Linked DNA regions of Homo sapiens: region 2 is linked to region 1. A link means that fine-mapping ties the variant in region 1 to the expression of a gene that starts in the linked region. Tissue or cell type: whole blood. Region 1 holds a variant in brackets; the other region holds the start of a gene. All regions are shown on one strand. Distances are between the middles of the regions.

The links. PIP is the estimated chance that this variant, and not a neighbour inherited with it, causes the effect.
Region 2: it holds the start of GUF1, and the variant in region 1 is fine-mapped to the expression of GUF1 in whole blood (INTERVAL, PIP above 0.99).

What each region holds. Positions count from the first base shown.
Region 1 is chr4:44,872,779-44,881,047 of GRCh38, forward strand. No RefSeq gene overlaps it. Among named protein-coding and RNA genes, the nearest start is that of GNPDA2, 150 kb to the left of the region's middle. The variant C/A (reference allele first, on the strand shown) is at 5,124.
Region 2 is chr4:44,673,873-44,681,872 of GRCh38, forward strand. It overlaps GUF1 (GTP binding elongation factor GUF1), which reads left to right and starts at 4,548. Exons shown (of 17, transcript NM_021927.3): 1 at 4,548-4,915; 2 at 6,569-6,680; 3 at 6,822-6,970; 4 at 7,251-7,331. The coding sequence starts at 4,751. RefSeq lists an enhancer at 3,767-4,655 and a silencer at 4,727-4,886.

The DNA of each region.
Region 1 (8,269 bases):
GGAGGTTAAGCAGCTCTGTTTAATTACAGAAGCCAGACGCACATAAATTCAAATGAACCACTAAGGCCACACCTTAAGAACAGAGTATTGCTCATTAATTACACACAATGAAACACATGTTGTTTCAATTTTTAAGATGTTCAATTGCATTTCTTTTTTTGAGAGAATCACAGAATCAAAGAACAGGAACAAATATCAGGGATTCCCCAAGTAGAATTCTGTTTACTAGCAGCAACCTACTTGTTCTGCCACTGCAAGCCCAGTGAGATCTTTACTGGTTGTGTCCCCTTTTTTCATTCCTTCCTTCACACCTTCCTCTACCAACATTTATCACCTTCTACTGTACCCCATATCAATAAATCCTGGCCTCTCCCCTTTTGTTTCCTTCCACCATGTTCTGTGGGAACTCATATTTAACATTAGCACACTTCTCCTTTTTCCTGGGATACTTCCTCTACCTCTTGATGTTCACTGAACATCAAGCATGCTATGCTTTAGAATGCTTTAGAACTTGGTCTTTTCTTTTTATTTACATTAATACTAGACTTCTCAAGGCCTTGACATTTGGTATTCCCTCTACTGAGGACTCCTTTCTATATGCTAAGATCCAGGAAGACAGGGATCATCTACCTTTGAGGGGCGGACACCTCAGATAGATATTTGCCACAGTGCTGAGGATATTGTGCACAGTAGGCTCACTTATTTGTTGAATTAACTAGTGAGTGAGTGGGTGAATGAATACATTAATTAAAAGTGTATTCTATATTTACTGTTCATATTTTCTCCCCTTCTTTCAATATGCAAACATTACATAGTTTGCCTTTCTTTTCCATAGGAATGGATTTTTCAAAAACTTGAAAATGACTTTGAGACCATCACATTTCTAAATACAGGAGTCATTTTTCATAACTCATCCTGATAATTTTTCAGCCTTTTTTGTCACCTTCTTCTTTTCTAATCATTATATTCTTCAAAGGAAAAAAAAATGCTTCCATTAATTCCTGTCTTTTATTTTGTTGGAATAAAGTGATTCCTAAAATTCTTATGACCACATTTTATGCTTTGCTTTGGTGACTTAGCATTATGTTAGCTTGTGTTAATTATAGTTACATATATATTCTTATTTCCCATGTTATATTATAGATTCCATGTGGTTAAAAACTGCTACTATTTATGGAACAGTAACAGGCATTATTCTGAGTACTATATACATAATAACATAGTCCTTATACCTCTATAAATTAGGTATATTATCATCATTGTTTCCATTTTACAAAGGAGGAAACTGAGACCAAGAAAAATAAGTGCCTAAGGTCATTCGGTTAGTAAATGGCAGAGCCAGGAGTCCAGCACAAAGTCTGAATTAAAGCTTTATGTGCTATCCTCTACCAGATGTTAGCCTTTCACAGCATGACCTGCACTTTATGTCTCTTTGTATCCTCAGTATCTGGCTTGGCACATGAGATATAATGGGTACTTAATAAAATTTTGGAGGGGAATTAGACTGTATTATTTATATAGATCCCTTATTTTACCTCTTTGGAAACTGAGGATCACTTAGGCATACTCAGGCAGAATCAGGACTAAAACCAAATCGCTATACTTCTTCGAAGTTCTTTTCACTGCCTTTAGAGCATTGTAGAAACACAGGATATTAATTTCATAATCAATAACCTTCACTTGATGTGAACCTACTAACAAATCCTTAATATGTTATAATTCAACCAGGATTTTTTTACAATTTTAATTCTGCTTACATGTGTCTCTGGTTAAATTGGGAGTTGAGGTTTGATTTCTGGTGGAAGTGCCTGGTCACAAATTAGCTGAATGACCTGGAACAAGTCTCCTTACCTTTCTGAGTCTAATATGTTATGTGTGTGAATTGGCTTAAAATCTCTAAATTTCTTCCAACTGAAACCCTTGTGTTTTTTTTCAATTTTGTATTTTTAGTAAGCTAATATGGATTTCTTAATTGAATTATTCATTTAACAAACATTTATTGAATGCCTACTGTGTGCAGGAGATTTTAGACCACTTCCAAAGTTAGGAAGGCAGAGAGGAAAATGAACATATTTATTTCATTAGCAGGCTGCATGCATTTCTCAGAATATCTCCTGATATTCATTTGAAGAAAATAGAGCCCAATTTGTTGCACCCCTCTGAGACATCTGTGATTCCAGATTCTCCCGGGACTTTAGATATTTATTATATCTAATATATCCCTGGACTTTACTTATTTTTCCAAATAGATTCATCCCTTTGTATAATGCAACTCATTTTCTATGATAAGAATTATTTTGTTAAATGTTATGCATACAATTGTCTTAATAGTTTATTTATCCCGTGGTGTCATGTAGCTGTGTACTTAAAAATAAGCTGTAGGTGTTGCAGGAAGAAGCCCAGTTGTAAGGAATGGGTTTGAAGTGTGTTTCTGCAGAGTTCCAGGTTCCAGACTGCATCTGCAATGTAAGGCTTCTTTAGTAATTTCCATTAGAGAGATGGCTCTTTTATCTGCCCAGTTTTTGTAGATGTGGGTAATATTGGTTGACTCGTGTCATGTTTCAGAGCAACAACTTTGCCTGCTCTTTAAATTCTCTGACCTCAGTTACGCATGTATCCTTCTTAATTTAGGCATTAATATTGTTCTTAGAAATAGAGCAGGAATTTATATCCCAGCCTGACCAACTTCAATCCATTAAGCCTTTATTCTAAATGTCCATATTCCATTTTAACCCTTAATTCTTCCAATATAAATCTTGTTTTCAATCATTAGCTAAAGTCTCTATTGAAGTCAGCTTTATGAACCTACACTCCACTTATTAAGATATAATTTTATATATGAAATATAAACTTTTAAAAAATATTAAAGTATTTATAATAAAATCAATGTTATTTTATTCCAAGTTTTAGCTTGAATGTTTAAGTACTTGTATATAGAAAATGGTTCAATTTCTCAAAATGGTTTTGGAAGTAATTTTCCCACAGGCATACTTTTTTTGGTATTCATTTTCTGTTTCGGCATAGAAAGATAAAATGTTCTCATTTATGCACAGATAATTACAATATTCATATAACCTTTTAGAAGTCTTTATTATTATTTTCTTGTCCTTCAAAGTTTCTGTATTTACTGAATTTTATATCAGCCTAAGCATAGGGAATTCTTCCAGCTTGCACTTAAACTAATTTTTGAAAGAAAGCCGCATAATTTATACCTTATATTGCATAGTATTTATAAAACTACATTTATTAAAGCTTTGCAGACAAATGTGTTTAGTGCTTGCTGGCATTTTTTTCATGGTTTGGATCGATTATTCAGCTCTGATTTATGGTAGCTTTTCCTCTTCACATTCTGTGGATGCTTCTCTACCAGTAACAAGGAAAATTGTGCAACTACAATATTTACTGTGAAAATATGATTTCTCAGCCTTTCTTTTATATAACAAATTTAAGGGTCTCTTATTTTCTTTTAAATATTATCTGTTATAATAATTTGTAGCTTCTTATGTATGTACTCTCTGTGTTCTATCAATAAATATGTAAACAGAACATTTTTTTCTCATTACCTAATTCAGGATGTTCAAAGGAAAACAGTACAGGACAGTGCTTGGATTTGGGCTATGGAGACAAAATACCTGGGTTCAAATCCTACTTCTACGATTTCCAAACTCTGGTCTTGGGACATGTTAATTAACATCTCTAAGCCTCAGTTTTATCATTTGTAAAATGGTATTAATACGCCTAAGAGTTAACTTCGATTGATCACTTAGCATATGTGCAGAGTTGTTTTAAAAGTTTTTTATTAATTAACACATTGACTCCTCACAACAACCTTATGAGGATGTTCAATTATTACATCTATTTTTCAGAAGCAAATTAAAGCACAGAGAGGTTAAGTAGCTTGCTCAAGGTCTCATAAGGCAGTTGAGAGGATTAAAACCTTATAGAGTAACTCACAGTGATCACCAAACCGAAAACACTGAAGAAAAGCATTTTCTCAAAAAGTCAAGAAGATCCCTTGACCACATTTTCTTGTATTTTCAATAATAGATGAAAGGAGTACAGGTTGTTCTCTTCTCTCGAGATAATTACTTCATTGTTTGGGTTAAAAGTTCTGGAAATTTGACAGGGACTAGTTGGGCTCATTTTATATAGAGATCTTGCCAGGTTAAATGACTTGGCAAAGCCTTCAGAGAAAAAAAGTGTCAGTTCAAAGACTTACATCCACATTTTCTATCTTAACTATGGGCCTATTTTCTGTATTGCTCCTCACATGGCTATCAGCTTGTTGTTGGCAATTTATTTTTTAGTTGGAAAGCTCAAAGGTCAAGGAGGTGTGGCTTGTTTTGTCTATTTGCCACGAAATAGTGAAGACAAACTTCCCTCATGTCAAAGTTACAACTTTTGGCAAGACAAAAAAAAGTGATTTATGTTTTTATATTGTCCCCTGTAACCACATTTTATATTTGGTTAAAATAATGCAAAATAGTTTCTTTAGTTGCCTTTCTCTATTAGGAGGTATGAAAGGTCTATTTTATTAATTTTTCAAATTGTCTAATCAAATTATACAAATTAACCTTTTTATTGTGTAACTGCTGCAGGAAATTTAACTACTAGATAATAACTCTCAAACAAAATGTTAGACAAATTAGCTAACAATGATCACATCCAGGATAGGCAAATTTTTCCAAGGGTAAGAAAAAATTCAAGGATCCGTTTTTTTATTTGTTGTCATTTGCTTTATGGTTGAAGTGAAGACAGCAGTTGTACTTTAAAACTCAAAACAAAACATAACCCAGAAATGTAGATGTCCTAGGAGTATTCCTATTTACCCAAGTCCAAAGTTGTTACTCAAACTTTAAATATTACAAAGTATCCCCGGAATGTTGAATGTCATGATTAACAGGACAACTGATAATTATGTGTAGCATGTATACCCAAGAGTTACCTGAATCTCCAAACAAGCCACACCTTTACCCATTGAGTTGGTGAATTTATTTTAACCTTTCACATAAAACCACATTTACATTGAATTGGAAATTTTTCTTTTGTGTTCATTTCTATTCTCTGCTTGAGAGTAATCTTCCCCTTTTCTGCTACTTTCTCAGTGTGCCAAGATGTAGATA[C/A]TTATAGTCTCAATGAGATTGTCATGGATACTATAAGGGATGGAGATACTAGGTGAGATTAAAGTAATTCAACCAAAATGGATCCTTTTCTATTCTACGACAAAATATCAAACTAAATTGCTTGGACTTTGAGGATTTTTATAATGTTTTTCTTTAACTCTTTTGCTTGACATTTAGCATTTTTATCCAATATGAAAATATTCGTTTATATTTTTCTGAATATTATAATTGAACATATATTTATCAAACATGTGGGCAAAATGACATACTCTTAGGTGAACTATTCGGGCTCTGAAGCCAAACTATCTGTGTTTGCATGTCAGCTTTGTGACTTACTGTTACCGGCGCAAGAGATCAGAGTTACCCTCAGTTACTGGCAGCATATGTATGCTGGTCTGTAGCAACTTCAGCCCTTGCCTCCTCGGAAGAAAGAATTCTACTGAGGGGCATAAAGCAGAAAAAGAGACCAAGGCAAGTTTCAGAGCGGGAGTGGAAGTTTATTTAATAAGACTTTAGAACAAGAAAGAAAGGAAAGTTTACTTGAAAAAAGATCCAAGAGGGCGCCTGAAGGTCAAAGAGAGCATTTAACCTTGATCCTAAGGCTTTACAGGCTCACTGCTTTTCCACGGTTCTTCCCTTAGGGTGGGCTTCCCACATGTGCAGTGCCCTCCTTATCCTTGGGAACTGAGCATGTGTAGTGTGTTTAGGAAGTTGTATGCGTGCCCATCTGAAGCTTTCTTCCTTCTTTCAGTGGAGTACACCCAGAAGGTCATACTTTGCCATTTAGTCTCTTAGTGCACATGCCCAGGAAGTTTTTTTCTCCCTGGCATCTGCATTCAATTAACATTTTAATGTTAATAGCTGTGAATTATCAGGAAATGGCCTCTCCTGGTGCCCTGGGTGGGTTGCCAAATATCATTTTAGAGAGGCAGTGTGATAATTGTCAAAGCATCACCTGATATTCCTAGTGGGTGAGGGGAGAGCCCTTTCCTGCCCCACTCATGCTGGCCTAACTACTGTAACATTACCACATCGCACTGGACAAATTACTTGCCTTTTCTGTGCCACAGGTCCTTCCTCTGCAAAAGAGCTTGAGAGGATGGATACCCCATTTTCCATTATGTAATTATTATGCATTGCATGCCTATATCAACACATCTCATGTATTCCATAAATATATACACCTAATATGTACCCACAAAAATTAAACAGTAAAAAAATTGTAAAAAACAAAACAAAAAAGGAGAGTGGATTATATCATATGCTGCAAAAAGTCATGAAGATTAGATGAGTCAATATGTGTAAAGTGCTTAGTGTAGTACCTGGCATAAAACAAAGGAAGGTTTTTTTTTTATTAGTATTGCTTTCATTGGCATAAATGACCACTGAGGTTGAAATATTTTTTCCTAACCATTTCTATTTCTTATATGAATTTTGCTTATATACTATTTTTATTGGCGTGTTTATCTTTTTCTCATTGATTCTTCAAAGCTATGTATATATGTGTGTGATTTATTGAATGCCATAAATGTGACAAGTGTTCAAAAGAACTACAGTCAGGGAGGAGCCAAGATGGCCGAATAGAAACAGCTCCAGTCTACAGCTCCCAGCGTGAGCGGTGCAGAAGATGGGTGATTTCTGCATTTCCATCTGAGGTACCGGGTTCATCTCACTGGGGAGTGCCAGACAGTGGGCGCAGGACAGTGGGTGCAGTGCACCATGTGTGAGCTGAAGCAGGGCAAGGTATTGCCTCACTTGGGAAGCACAAGGGGTCAGGGAGTTCCCTTTCCTAGTCAAAGAAAGGGGTGACAGATGGCACCTGGAAAATCGGGTCACTCCCACCCTAATACTGCGCTTTTCTAACTGGCTTAAAAAATGGCACACCAGGAGATTATATCCCGCCCCTGACTCAGAGGGTCCTACGCCCACCGAGTCTCACTCATTGCTAACACAGCAGTCCATGATCAAACTGCAAGGTGGCAGCGAGGCTGGGGGAGGGGCGCCCGCCATTGCCCAGGCTTGCTTAGGTAAACAAAGCAGCCGGGAAGCTTGAACCGGGTGGAGCCCACCACAGCTCAAGGAGGCCTGCCTGCCTCTGTAGGCTCCACCTCTGCGGGCAGGGCACAGAAAACAAAAAGACAGCAGTAACCTCTGCAGACTTAAATGTCCCTCTCTGACAGCTTTGAAGAGAGTAGTGGTTCTCCCAGCATGTGGCTTGAGATCTGAGAATGGGCAGACTGCCTCCTCAAGTGGGTCGCTGACCCCAAGTAGCCTAACTGGGAGGCACCCCCCAGTAGGGGGCAGACTGACACCTCACATGGCCAGGTACTCCTCTGAGACAAAACTTCCAGAGGAACAATCAGGCAGCAGCATCTGTGGTTCATCAATATCCACTATTCTGCAGCCACTGCTGCTGATACCCAGGAAAACAGGGTGTGGAGTGGACCTCTAGCAAACTCCAACAGACCTGCAGCTGAGGGTCCTGTCTGTTAGAAGGAAAACTAACAAACAGAAAGGACATCCACACCAAAAACCCATCTGTACATCACCATCATCAAAGATCAAAGGTATATAAAACCACATAGATGGGAAAAAAACAGCAGAAAAACTGGAAACTCTAAAAATCAGAGTGCCTCTCCTCCTCCAAAGGAACTCAGCTCCTCACCAGCAATGGAACAAAGCTGCATGGAGAATGACTTTGACGAGTTGAGAGAAGGCTTCAGACAATCAAACTACTCCAAGCTACAGGAGGAAATTCGAACCAATGGCAAAGAAGTTAAAAGCTTTGAAAAAAATTAGAAGAATGGATAACTAGAATAACTAATGCAGAGAAGTCCTTAGAGGGCATGATGGAGCTGAAAACCAACGTGTGAGAGCTACGTGATGAATGCAGAAGCCTCAGTAGCTGATGCGATCAACTGGAAGAAAGGGTATCAGTGATGGAAGATGAAATGATGAAATGAAATGAGAAGAGAAGTGTAGAGAAAAAAGAATAAAAAGAAACGAACAAAGCCTCCAAGAAATATGGGACTATGTGAAAAGACCAAATCTACATCTGATTGGTGTACCTGAAAGTGACGGGGAGAATGGAACCAAGTTGGAAAACACTCTGCAGGATATTATCCAGGAGAACTTCCCCAATCTAG
Region 2 (8,000 bases), 200 kb before region 1:
TCTCTTCATTCTCTGCCACTGATTTACCCAGGACTCTACTGTGTCTTACCTAGATTATTATTATTATTATTACTTTTTGAGACGGAGTCTAGCTGTGTTGCCCAGGCTGGAGTGCAGTGGCGCAATCTCAGCTCACTGCAAGCTCCGCCTCCTGAGTTCACGTCATTCTCCTGCCTCAGCCTCCCGAGTAGCTGGGACTACAGCGCCCGCCACGATGCCTGGCTAATTTTTAGTGTTTTTAGTAGAGACGAGGTTTCACCGTGTTAGCCACGATGGTCTCGATCTCCTGACCTCGTGATCCACCCGCCTCGGCCTTCCAAAGTGCTGGGATTACAGGCGTGAGCCACCGCGCCCGGCCTGTCTTACCTAGATTATTAAAATAAAAAACTCTCTTTCCCTTTCATTCTCATCACCTCATTTGATTTCTTTTCATTTTACACATCGTTAGAGAAAGCCCCCTAGAGCAAAAAATTCTGTTATTTCCTTCCTTACGATGGTTTCTGCATAGATTAATGGTGAAATGCTAACTAGTACGTCCCTGTTCAAAGCCCTTCACAAAGTGATACAAACTCTTCTTTCTATGATTCCTCCTCTACCCTATACACTTTCTATTTTGTGATATGAAAATATTTCTAAAGATCAAATTTTTATGCTCAAAATTTGAAAAAATATAAAAGTCTAAAAAACTTAGAATAATTTAAAAATGGGCCTCAAAAGTGAATTGAAAGATGTATTTTATACTGTAGACACATGGTGGCACCATTTTAGCAGCCTAGCAGCAATACTAGAGAACCTTTGTTAATATTGTGTGATTATGCTCTAAAATTGTGCAAGCGCTTTAAATGGCTAATGTGATACTACTTTAATCATTTATTAATGGTATTTTTAGTGCTAGAAATGCTCCACAATATCAATAACTTTGAAACAGAATTTAGAGGTGATAGTTATTTATACATTGTTTTTATTACTCTTTTGTTATGGGCTGAATTGTGTCAACACTTCCATGTTTATATGTTGATGTTCAAACCCCCAATATCTCAGAATGAGACTGTATTTAGAGATAGGGTCTTTAATGAAATAATTAATTTAAAATTATTAGGATTGGCCCAAATCAAATATGACTAGAGTCTTGATAAGAAAATTAGGACACAGACATGTATAGAGAGAAGACCCTGTAAGAACGCAGAAGGTACTGATCTGCAAGCCAAACAGAGAGGTCTCAGAAGAAACCAGCTGTGCTGATACATTGATCTCAAACTCTTAGCCTCCAGAATTGTGAGAAAATAAATATCTATTGTTTAAGCCACCAAGTCAGTCTGTGGTATTTTGTTATGAAAGCCCTAGCAAACTCATATTCCTTTCGGTATATTTACAAATATAGAAACCATACAATAGTTGTGGATTAATGTACTATATGAGTGCAATCTCCATATTATATATTTATTTTTACAGAAAAACTGAGTCTTGATTTATGAGTTTGTAAATTATTTAAGCTCTTCAGAAGTCCTCGCCTCAAATAAAATGCTACTGTCCTGAATGTTGGCCCTGTTCTCTACTGACTATTAACCCAATTTATTGTGTGTTTTTCCGCATTTGTATCCTTGCTCAGCTGAGCCGAGTTTACTGGAGTGGTTAAGGGTGCAGGCTCTACAGCTGGACTGTGTGGACTCACAGCCCTAGTTCATCACTAACTGTGACTCTAGACAGTTATTTAAAAAACGTTGGCCACATTTTTCTTGGAAATCTATGAAACAGAGATAATAAGAGTGCCAGCAATAGAGGGCTCTGTGAAGATCGAATGAATTGATACAAAGTATGTAGAATAGTACTGGGAACTGAGAAAATGTGTTATGCTGTTGATTATTCCTCTGCTTAAGTTCCATTTATTTCCTTGGATAAAAACAAAAAACTGCCTATCCTTCGAAGCACATGAAAGATACCTCCTCTTTGAAGTTCAGTCACTATACCTCCTGCTTCTTCTCAAGTTGAATAATAAAGAAACTTGTGCAAAGATATTGCAAGAGATGAGCTTTAGTTTCCAAAAATTTGGATTCAAATTTTTTTTTGCATTTATCTATCATGTAATTTATCTATCATGTAATTTTAGACATTTTGCTTAATTTGTTTGAGTTTCCACAGCTAGTATATAACCTGACACAGTGGAGCTCAGTATTTTTCTAACAAATATGTTTTTCCATTTGTAGGCTGGGAAACATAATGTCAGCCTTATAAGATACTGCAGTTTTCTAAAGTGTGGGACAAATTCCTGTGGAGGCACCAAGATAGATACAGACATGGTATCAAGGATACTGTGTTATTCAGATAAAGTTTTTCTTTCAACCCTATTTAAATGCTTCTTGCTAGGTCAAAGAGAAAAATCTCAGTTTGAGGCTAATATTTTTAAATTCTTTTCTAATATCTGCTAATCTCCCTTTTGTAATCCAGACAGACCAAACCTACAATTGAATCACATTTTTTATTCACTACAGTTATATTTACTGTTACTCTTATGACAGCTCATCATGCTTTCTCCATTAATGGTATCTACGTTTTCTTTTAAAAAGAATTCATTTACATATAAAGGTAAGTTAAAGAAAAATATAAAGTACATAATATCGGTATGAGGATTGACAAAGATTCTTGACCAAACTCTAGCCTGACTCTTCTAAGCCCTCTTATCAGCAAAGCCTCAAACTTGCCTATAAAAACTACAGACCCTCAGCACAAATGATTTCATCCACATCCTTCCCCTACCGGTTTGCCCACACATTAAAAGACTTGAACAAACTCATATAGTTTATAACAGCTCAAGGCTGCATCTCTAAGATGAAGCCCCCTTAAATTTCTGTCTGAGAAAGCTCAAGACTGACAAAATAATTTATTTGTTCCAGCCAACATGTGAAAGTAGCACTCATTTCCTAGTGTCTGCGGGAAGGGTAGGAGCCTTATTTCCATAAGCAACAGTTTACAACCCAGATGGATTTCAAATGGACCATTCTTCCGCCATTGTTTTTTGTAAATTTCCGTTTCCCTGACTTTGATCAAGCCCAGTTGTTCTCTTTCCCTACTCCCGCATTCTCCTTTTAAAATACAGTCGCCTCTGGACAAATTGTAGTTTAGTTCATTCTGGATCTTATTCCCGATTGCATTAGTATATCACTATAATAAAAATCTGTCTTCACCACTTTAACTGGTGTCTGCCTTTATCTTTGACAGGATATGGTGAAAATTAATGAGGGTAATTGTGCAAATTATGGAAGTCTGGGCAACATTGAATATAAATTATTGTGTTTACTTCAAGATAGTTGTTAAATTCATTCTCTTACAAGTGTGACAGAATTAGTCGTCTATCAAGTACTGTTTTAATTCATAAAAGTTCCAAGAAAGGGCCAGGCGCGGTGGCTCACGCCTGTAATCGCAACACTTTGGGAGGCCGAGGTGGGCAGATCACGAGGTCAGGAGTTCGAGATCAGCGTGACCAACATGGTGAAACCCCGTCTCTACTAAAAATACAAAAATTAGCCATGATTGCTGGCGCGCGCCTGTAATCCCAGCTACTCAGGAGACTGAGGCAGGAGAATCGCTTGAGCCCAGGAGGCGGAGGTTGCAGTGAGCCGAGATAGCGCTACTGTACTCCAGCCTGGGCGACAGAGCGAGACACCATCTCAGGGGGGAAAAAAAAATCCAAGAAAGAACTGAGTCTGGTACAGAATTCTTGATCCTAAGAAATCCTCCAAATGAAGAAACTTTCAAAGGCTCTGGAAACAATACGAATGATTCTGTCTTCAGTCACAATGATGAACTGAACACAGCTGTCATCTCCCTCCTTCGCACCAAATTCTGGATATTCCAGAAAAGCGCAAGAGAAATAGTGGGAGACAAACACTGGATGCAATCCTCCTATCACCTGTTTTATCCCCCATTCTTACTTCGTCAGAGCTCATTCCATGAAGTGGTAACTTGATGACGATGGAAACATTGGGGGTCCAGCATGGAACTTTTTCCCACCTTTACTTCTTGCCAAAACCTTCCTGGATTCAGTATTGCAATCAATGTTATGGCCCGTTTCCTTTCAGATGCACTTCAAGATTAGCTCTGTCACTGACAACATGGGGAATACATTTCGACCTCCAGATTTTAAAAGTGCCATTATTATTTTGCCATTAGGTAGAAGGCTAAGTCTCAACGTTGTGCTAATAATAGCATCTTTAAGTCCCTGGACTAAGACCTCGGCTCCTGGTTCGGGAATCAGACTGCCTGGGCGGCACTCCAGGCTCCACAGCTCCCCACCTGTGAGCTCCTGGGCAAGTCACTCGGTCCGGATTTCCAGAGGTAGTTTGGGGGAACTGACAGTACACACACCACAGGGCAGTAGTAAGAAAGAGACAATGCAAAGGAATTGGCACAGCACTCAGCAGACAATATAAGCTAATATGTACTCTGTCTACACCCTGCGTTTTAGGGAGTCAATCGAAAGCCTCCACTCACGTGACCACTCCACTACCCGGCGCCAAGACGCGCTGATGTCACGACAGCGTGCGGCGTGCAGACGTCGGCAAGCTGCGCCGCCGCTTCGGGTTGCTTCCGGATCTGGTACTTGGGCAGAGCTCCCCGGGGTTCATTGTCTTCGCTTCACAGGATCTGTTTGAGTCCTGTCCACCGGATCCTACGGGGGGTACCTTCGAAAAAAAACGGGCTATGCTGCTGTTGCGTGTGGGTACCCTCTCCTGACGCCTCCGCCGCCCGGGTCATGTGGACCCTCGTGGGTCGGGGCTGGGGGTGCGCACGCGCTCTCGCGCCACGAGCCACTGGGGCCGCGCTTCTGGTGGCCCCGGGGCCCCGGTCCGCGCCGACCCTTGGGGCTGCTCCAGAGTCCTGGGCTACCGACAGGCTCTACAGCTCCGCAGAATTCAAGGTGACTGCCCCCTGGAATCTGATTTAGCCAAGTTTTCAAACGTTGGAGTGCCCCATGCGATCTTGGACATGTATAGGGCTTTCTGGGACTAGCTCTGAACCCTGCTTGCAACTTGGTACAGGGAGGCAGAGCGGAGAGTGTGAGCACTGCTCAGGTTCCCGACCCTCCACTCCTCACTAGTGTGACCTTGGGCAAGTCACTAACTTTGTAGGTTTTCTCATTTTCAATGTCAAATGTTGATTTGTTTACGCGAGCCACTGGTCGAAGTGCTTTGCGTTTATTCATCTATTTAATTCTAAAAAGCCTACTAAGCAAGTTGCTAGTAAATATTAATATAACGTCCATTTTCCTGCAAATTAAGTAGCTATGTGGCCTGGGCAAGTTACTACATTGTCACTCTCCTACTTCATTTGTTGAATGCAGAACTGATCAAACATCCAGTGGCTAATTTGTGAGATTTGTGTGATGTGAGAAGTGGACTTTTTTAGACTAATACCTAGAATGCAGGAAGTTCTCGGTCTGTCTTTGTAGTTTTATTTCATTCTACCTCAGCCAGAGCAAACCTGTGTAATTTTGACTCTGGTGGGAGAGGGTGGGAGGTTCAACAACTCTGATAATTGTGAATGGATACATTTTAGTCAGAAAAGTGAAGTGACTGAAGGCAAGCTATAAGTAGGCAGAAAGACAAAACCTTAAATTAATCAACTTTGGCCCTAATATGCCTGTGTTTTTAAAAATGGATTTATATTGCAATTCGAAGTATAAAGATGGTGCAATTCTCTATACCTTTTGAACTGAAGGGAAAGAAAATCTACAGGGCAAACATCAGAATTAGTTTTTTTTCGGCAGACTTTCAGCTATAATTGTGCTTTTATTATCTGTCTTTATGGGGCTATTAAAAAACAAAGCTCACGTGAATTTTATATTTCATTGTAATTTCATGGTTTTGCTGATTGTGAAATATGCAGTTGATTGGAAAAAAATAGAGTACAAAAAACTGGTATATTTTGCTTGATAACAATTTCTAGCAATTTGTGATGTGTTTCAGTAAAACGTTAAAGAAGATGTGTACACGAAAAACCAGGAGTTCCATTTTAAAATATTTTTAAGTTTTAAGTGATAAGTCTTTTGTTGGATGTCATCTTTTTTTCTTTCTCACCAGAGAAGCTGCAAAGTAGCAAAATTGTATTTAAAATAAAATTTTGAGGCTCCATTAGAGACACAGATTTTTAAATAAATCTGATTCCTGATTAAATGTGTGATAGGAGCAGAAAATTTATCTTCTTTCAGCTTTTCTGTAGCTCCATTGCCTCAAAAGTTTTACTAGACAAGGTATTCTCAGGCCTTTAGAAGTTCTAGGTGTCTCATGTTCTCCATTCACGATAATAAATTCAGTTCCTGATTGGCCCTAAAAATTGTGTAGAAATGTTAAGGGATTATGATTTAGCTGTATAGTTACCTTTGGCTATTAAACTGATGTTCCTTGTAATATGAACTTAGCCATACATGTCTTTTTCTTAGAATAATAATATAAACAATATAAATGCTAGAAATGATATTGTTCAACGATTAAAAGAATATTCTTTGAATTGGTATACTTGTTTGATAGTATGCCAAATTTATACTCCTAAATGTGGTATTTCCCCTTTCTAGGAAAAACTTGACATGTCTAGGTTTCCTGTTGAAAATATTAGAAATTTCAGTATTGTTGCACACGTGGATCATGGCAAAAGTACTTTAGCTGACAGGCTCCTAGAACTTACAGGTATTTCATTTATGTTACATACTTAACTGATGGCTGCGAGTTATTGGGAATTACTTTTACTCTTAAATTTTAATTTTATAAGTAATATTCTCTTTTTTTTTTAAAGCCCAGAGAAATATCAATAAGTGTTTCTGTTTATAGGGACAATTGATAAAACAAAGAATAATAAGCAGGTTCTTGATAAATTGCAAGTGGAACGAGAAAGAGGAATCACTGTTAAAGCACAGACAGCATCTCTCTTTTACAATTGTGAAGGAAAGCAGTACCTTTTAAATCTCATTGATACACCGGTAAGTTTAATATTAATTTTGCATGTATTGTTAAAGTCAACATTGTGTCAGTAGTGCAAACAGATCCTTGTTTAATTTTTGAACTGAGTATTAAACATCTGCCTTTGCTTTTTGTTTTCTCAGTGTTCTTATGTTAGTGTCAGTTGTTTCAAAAGTGCAGGCTACAAAAAAGAAACGAATATTTAACAGCTTTTATCAAGTAAAGTCAATAAATTTGCCATAATGCTCTTTCCTAAAAAATTAACTCACATTTACAGGTATCAATATTTTTGTTTCTCAGGGCCATGTTGATTTTAGTTATGAAGTATCCAGGTCACTTTCTGCTTGCCAGGGTGTTTTACTTGTGGTTGATGCAAATGAGGTAGGTATTTTTCATTTTGTATGATGTGATATGACATGACTATTTGGTTGTTTCAAGAGTTTTTCTTTAAAATGTGTTTTGGAAATAGAATTTTTGTGTTTGAAAAATAGATTTAATCTGTTACTTACTGAAAATCATATGGTTTCATCCTGTTAATCTGAAATATTATTACAATAAAGCATTCTCTGGAATTGACTAGTTTTTAAATTGGAATTGTTCAAAAGATTGTTGTATTTTTTTGAAGTGTGACATCATATTGTCAATGCATCTTACCAAAAAAACCCCACCAACTTTAGCAGTTCTTAATCTGAGGTTTCTATATCCATTTTTAGCAGATCTTAAGAATAAATCATTAGTTTTCAGATCATTTTAGGTGATTTTAAGGCAATAATTTGGAAGTATTAGGTTTTTAAAAAATCAGTAACATTACTAAGCTCTTTTGTTGTGTAAGCCGTAAAGACACTCAGCAGATGACCATGTAAGAGCTGTGAATATAAACTTTTGTTACATGTTTCTCACAAACTCTTCATTCAAAACCCAACTTTTTTTTAGTGGTGGTGGTGACCGTGTTGTGTTAAGCCGTTAAGCCTTTCCTGATCCCATCAAGGAAAGTCAATCTCTACCTTATGTAGGCAGTACTGGCCTTTATAAACTACCTTGATGACTGTG